Linked DNA regions of Homo sapiens. The protein of the gene in region 2 purifies or fractionates together with the protein of the main gene of each other region. This does not show direct contact. Each region holds a gene or a part of one and is shown on either strand. Other genes may lie near its edges.

Region 1 (3,006 bases), on a different chromosome or scaffold from region 2:
CTTGGTTCACTGCACTATCCCCAAAACGTGTTTGGCACAAATAAATGTTTGTTGAATGAATTTTTAAAAATATGTTCAATACAACAACAAAGGTTTAGGAGCAACCTAAAGACCAATAATAAAGGATGACTAAATGATGATACCCCAAATGATGGAATATTATAAAACAATTTAGAGGAACATTTAATGATATTAAAAAATCTCTATATAAATGAGAAAAGTAGTATACAGAATTGCATATGTAGTATCAAGTTTTTCAAAAAATACATATTTTAAGTACATATATGCATTTTTTAAACTTGAAAATACAGAAAAATATTACTCAAATTGGGATCACATTACAGATGATTTTTATTGTCTTTACACAGCTCCAAAATATCTAGTTTTCATGTATTTTGTCACAGCTCCAAAATATCTAGTTTTCATGTATTTGTAATTAGAAAAACAAGTATTGTTTTTAAAGTTGCCTTTTATAAATGTGCAGACTCTGACTAGCCAAGTGGAACACTGGTTTTTTTTGGTTTGTTTTCTTCCTGAAAATATTACTAAAACCTTGTCTTACCATTGAATCATTTTGTTTTTAAATAGTGACATTAAGAAAACCAACACAGTTGCTACAGTGGCATTTGTTCTTGACTTCTCAGGTTAAGGCAACAAGAGCAAAAACAATACCAGGATTCCACAGAGATTGCAAGTGGAAAAAAGGATGGCCCCCATGGCAGTGTATTGGAAGAAGGTTTGGATGATTATTTGACTCGCCTGATAGAAGAAAGGGATACTTTGATGAGAACGGGTGTGTATAATCACGAGGATCGAATAATAAGTGAACTCGACCGACAGATCAGAGAGATTTTGGCAAAAAGCAATGCCAGTAATTAATAACATTTGGAAAAGCTTTATAGAGACTCTAAGTCTAAATTTTAATTTCTTTGTAAAAACCTCAAAAGTGAGGAAAATGGATGTTTTAAAATGGTATTTTCAATTTTTTATAAGCAAAATTTTGTATGTTATTGTATAGTATTTATTTGATCTTATTTACTTTATGCTACCTCTCCCACACTGGTTTTATTTGTAATTTGCATTTATATACTCATTTTAAATGACTTTTCAGTGTTTTTCATAGTTTATAATCTGATGGCTAACTAACTTTCAAAACAGCTTTTAACTAAGTTTGTTGTAGGAGAAATGACTGCGGTAATTTCCAGTTCTATAATGTTTCATGTTGAGCCAAAAGAGTATATCTTGCACTTTAAAAACGCTGCGTCCTATTCCATTTGAATGTAAATTCTTAAAAGTTGAGACCAATTGTAACCAGTTTAACTCATTTTAGATGACCTTTTTTTCTTATAATATTTGCAAGTGACAAGTTTGAAAACAAAGCAAGATCAGTGCAGAGAAGCCACATGACATGTTGGGTGACAGATTGGTCATTTATTTAAATAAAGTTAATACAGATTAAATTTGTTTCAAGAGCTATTGAATTTTCAAATTTTCAGTGTATTTATAACTTTTAAGAACATGAAGTATTAGCTTAATATAGTTTTCTCTGTTGGTTTCTTCCTCAAGTTTGCATTGTTTTCTTTTGTTAAAATTAGAGATTTCTTTTTATTTTCCAGTTATAGTAATACTAGCTGTCAGCTTAAACCCTCTGTAATAGAACATGGAAACAGACACATAAAGACATTAGCTGAAAAAATAGAGTGAAAATCAACTATTTTTTACTCCCGCTAATTTCAATCAATCGTTTTCAAAAGCGCACGAGATTCACTCATTGGATTTATGCAGTGCCCTGTCTGTATAAAAACTCTTAAGAGTTCCTTTATATCATATTCTTCAGAGCCAACATTTGTCCTCAAAGCAACGTTTCCCACCTCCTTTTACTGAGTACTGAAAAAGTTTTAGCAAAGTCACAGATTAGGTTGAATTTCAAAATATATGTACTTTAAAAAGTTCTGATTTCCAAATATAATAAAGTTAAAATTAAGTATATACTTTAGGAAGTTACCAATAACTTCCATCAAAGCAGAGTAGGATATATGGTAACATTAATTTTCGGTCATTTCAAATGAGGTATATTTCTTATTAGGGAAATTAAAGTCCCTATATTTATTATATATTTTTTCCTTATTAACAGAGTATTAATCTAGTAAAAAATAACCCAGCAGTAAATAATAAAGAAATTACTGAATGAGAGGATAATGAATCTGAATCATAGCAGGAATTTGCAATATTAATTATGGTTAGCTATTTTTCTCTCATTGATTTTTGTGCCACTTGAATGGAACAGAAGCAAGCCTTATGTTTTGGAAGGTCTGCGGTAAAATGCTGTGACTGTTTACTTTCAATTGCATTGTGTGTTGCCTGTGACTGCTTTCAAACGCTAGAGGGGGCCTCTGATTTAAAGAAATAAAAAGGACTTTTCTAAAATGGATGTGTAGTTTATTTTGCCTTTTGTAAAGCTCTTTTGGCTATTGTAACTTAACAAATAAAATCATAATTGTGTGCATCTCTGAGTTCTTGAGCAGCCTGTTACTTCTGTTTCTAAACAGAGTGGGCATAGTGTTCGGGTTTTCCTATTTCAAATGACTGTCTTTTTTTCTCAAGTGTTTACATACTATTTTTTGTCTTACAACTAGGGGAGTCTGAAATATTAACACTGTTTTGTAGTCCTTTTAGCAATACCCATTCCATTTGTAAGTGGCATCGAATGTTTTTACACTGATTTTGCCTAGGAGTTAATGAGTATGACCACAGTAGATAAATCAGTGAGTGGGTGCAGGCATGGGTGGGTGAATAAGTTTCCTAGTAACAGGAAAATATCAAATATTTTAGGGTAAAATCAGATTTACCTTTAAAATTTCTGTGGTTTTTCATGGAGAAAGTCTAGTTTCCATGTTTAATGCGGGCATGTACTGCATAGGAGGGGTGTGTAATCTACCAGGTATATCTAATACCATGTCTGTATAAACATAGGAGTTCCCTTGCAGATAAATCCTAGTAATTTCT
Region 2 (3,500 bases):
ATGCTGTCAAAACTCACATGTTGTATAGTATGCTACAAGGACTGGACACTGTTCCAGTACCCTGTGGAATAGGACCAAAGATGGATGGAATGACAGAATGGGGAAATGTTAAGCCCTCTGTCATAAAGCAGACCAGTGCCTTTGTAGAAGGAGTGAAGATGCGCACATATAAGCCCCTCATGGACCGTCCTAAATGCCAAGGACTGGAATCCCGGATCCAGCATTTTGTACGTAGGGGACGAATTGAGCACCCACATTTATTCCATGAGGAAGAAACAAAAGCCAAAAGGGACTGTAATGACACACTAGAGGAAGAGAATACTAATTTGGAGACACCAACGAAGAGGGTCTGTGTTGACACAGAAATTAAAAGCATCATTTAACCATAGACAATTTGCCAGGATCTAGGAACCACCTAATGGTAGGTGGACAGAAAAGGAAAAAAAAAAAAATTTACTTGCAAGTACTAGGAATTCAGATGATCAGCTCTTAAAAGAAAAAAAAAAGCAAAAAGACTAAAGCCCTATTAAGGAAGTTATTGCTTTAATAAGAAATTTCAAATATTCTCTTATCCCGGTCCAAAAGGATTAAGCGATTAAAGAACGTAAAATGGAGATGTATTTACATACACCTGGAAACCTGTGCCTTGTATTCAAATTCATTAAAGCCTAATCCTGCAAGTATCTGATTTGTTGTGTTTTTCTCTCCAAAGCAGATAAGATATTCACTACTCATCTGAATTTTCATAAAGTGCTGCATCTGAGTGTCTTATTTTCTAAGACAGAATTTAAGAATATTAAATTCATTTAATTAAAGATTGGATAAATTGGTTTAATGCCAGGCACAAAGTTACCTACCTGGAATAAAGCACAGTACCTTATCTTACAAAGCATATAAATCTAGTGCAGAGGTTGGTAAATGTTTTCTGTGAAGGATTAATGAGTAAATGTTTTAGGCTGTGTCAACAACAAATGGCCTCTATTGCATACATGTTTTTACAATCCTTTACAAATCTAAAAAGCACTCTTAGTTCATGGGCCATGGTGTTTGCCAAGCCTTGGGCTAGTGACTATAGGCAAGTTCTTATAGAGGAGATATTGAAGCTAGATCTTGCAGAACAAGTGGGAGCCAGTTAAAATGAGGATAAAGAACCACTTTAAATGTGTCTAAGTCAGAAGATCCAGTTTGTATAAAGGGTTAGAGATGACAACATATGCATTCAGGCAGCTCAATTCTTTAATACGGCTTGAGAGTGACAAGAACATAGTTTAAAAAGGTAAGCACAGGTCACATTTGTAGAGCAAAGACATTCCTTAAAAAGCTTAGATTTTGCAGGGCCACTGAAAAAATTTACATGCCCGATAGAATTGTGTGGCAAAAATATTGCTCTGAGTATTCTGTGGATGGGAAGAGGGCAAGATTGGAGGCACTGTGACCAATTAGGGGGCTGCTGGAGTAATGGAGGCAATAGATGATGAAAATGGCCTAGAAGAGATTTTTAGTGAGGCAAATGGACAGAAGTAGATGAATTTAAGATTAAGAAAGTAGAAACAACAGGACTCAGTGAATAAATATGCTGTTCAAAACTAGGGAGGCTTTCTAGATAACTCCTAAGTTTCAGATGTGAGCAAAATGAGTGGCTGGTAGTACCACATACTGAGAGAGGAAAAATGAGATAGAGCTTTGCTTGTTCTCAAAGTTAATAAGTGATCCTCAAAATATTACTTGTGAACACCAGTATTTATTCAAAAGAACTCAGAGTTGTCTTAAATACATTATCCTTTGCAACCATAAAAATAATAAACATCAAAGTTTGAACTCAGACCTTCTTCCTCAATAATAATTTTCATTACTAAAGTGAGTGTTCACCACATTTGGAATTTTTACAAATGCCACCTCAGAGAATGAGTAATTTTGCAAACTTACATTTGAAGGCTTCTTGTTTATTTTACCTATGATGACTGTCTTGACTTATGTAGTCACTAAATTCTTACTCTTCTAGATTGGATAGTATAATCTAGTCAACCTTGAAAGATTTTACTTAAGATCTAAGACCCTGATCCTCTAATTTACAATTCTACCATGTTTATGAGATCCAAAGTTTTACTTACCAACCAATAATTAGTTTTTTCCTACCCATGTTCAAGACTTCAGGTATACAAATATGTTTTCTATCCTCAAGCTGCTAGTGCAAATAACACATGGGACAATTAAAAACAATACTAATATATAAATCATAAACTAATGCTGCATAATTGCTACAGAAGGGGGGTGGACCACAGAAATAGACTTCACTGAAACAGTTCCAGATTTAGGAAGTAAAATAGCATACAAAAGGTGAGGTGACCCTGTAGTACTAAAAAGTACATTATAATAGCTGTTATATCCTAGCAGACAGGGAACCAGAAAATACCCCATTTTAGAGATGGGGAATTAGTGGTACAAATTACTTAAGATTTATTCAAAATTGCCCATTGTATGATCCAAGTCTTCTGGATTTGAATCATTATCACTGCTTTTTGGGACCCAGTCTATCAACACTTCATTATGTCCTGAGTATTCTTAAAATATAATTACTTTGGCCTTTACTTTTGATTTAAAGATCCTCTTTTTCATGTAATCAATGATCATGGTGGAATAACTTAAATATGTAAGTGCAAACCAAGGTTTTTTTTTTTTTTTTTCAATTTCTTACCTTATTTCAATGTATCTTGATTGGTATTTACATTCAAGTAAAAAAAAAACCTAGAAAAGAAGAATAGAGTTTAAAAAAATTAACTCTGAAGCAGTGATACATGGAACAAAATGCACTAACCATAAGTCATTGTTAGGATACTGTGTAGAAGCAAAGGAATCAGAAGATCAGGGTCTTAGATCTTAAGTAAAATCCCTTCAAGTCTGGCTAGATTATATTATCCAATCTAGAAGAGTAAGAATTTAGTGACTACATTTTTGGTAGTTGCCATAGAAAAAGTCAAGACAGTCATCACAGGTGGAACAAATGGGAAGCCCCCAAATGCAACTTTGCAAAAGTACTTGCTCTCTTAGACAGCATTTGTACAAATCCGAAGTCTCTGGCCCATGGTAAGGACTAAATAAATGTTGGAATAAAGGAACTATTTAGGTTGTGAAATTTAAATGACACTTTTTATATATTTATACATAAATAACGATTTGTGAGACTCTGGGCTAGGAGGATTTTTGGCAGTAAAGCCAAGAGTTAGTTTTTTTTTTTAATGGCATGTGTCCTACTATACAGTGATTAATGTGTTATTTCCTCTGCATTTCAACTGTGTCACACTCCTATTTTTTTCCTTGAACATATGAAGATGATGTTTGCAAACAATAAATAAAATAGAAACTTTAATAAGGTCCATAGGTAACTGTCAGTTCCTTCTCTTTCTAATATAAAAGATCGAACAATCCTTTCTCTTTAGAGGGAAACTTTCACATAAAAGCTAGAGCAACTTGTATTCTGTAAACACAGACAACATTGACCG

Evidence for each region. Proteins that work in one complex are often made in the same cells at the same time.
Region 1: the proteins of HYLS1 (region 2) and CEP120 purify together in Homo sapiens (affinity purification with mass spectrometry; one large-scale study listed by BioGRID and IntAct). This does not show direct contact.

The regions. Positions count from the first base shown.
Region 1 is NC_000005.10:123,344,392-123,347,397, reverse strand, and holds the end of CEP120 (centrosomal protein of 120 kDa), read left to right. Parts: intron 1-588; coding exon of another isoform or gene 589-644; coding exon 645-879; 3' UTR 880-2,506; downstream 2,507-3,006. UniProt on the Homo sapiens protein: Plays a role in the microtubule-dependent coupling of the nucleus and the centrosome.
Region 2 is NC_000011.10:125,890,668-125,894,167, reverse strand, and holds part of HYLS1 (centriolar and ciliogenesis-associated protein HYLS1), read right to left. Parts: intron 2,746-3,500; 5' UTR 2,696-2,745; intron 684-2,695; exon of another isoform or gene 384-683; coding exon of another isoform or gene 1-383. Other genes in the region: PUS3 (tRNA pseudouridine(38/39) synthase), read left to right, coding at 1-383. UniProt on the Homo sapiens protein: Plays a role in ciliogenesis.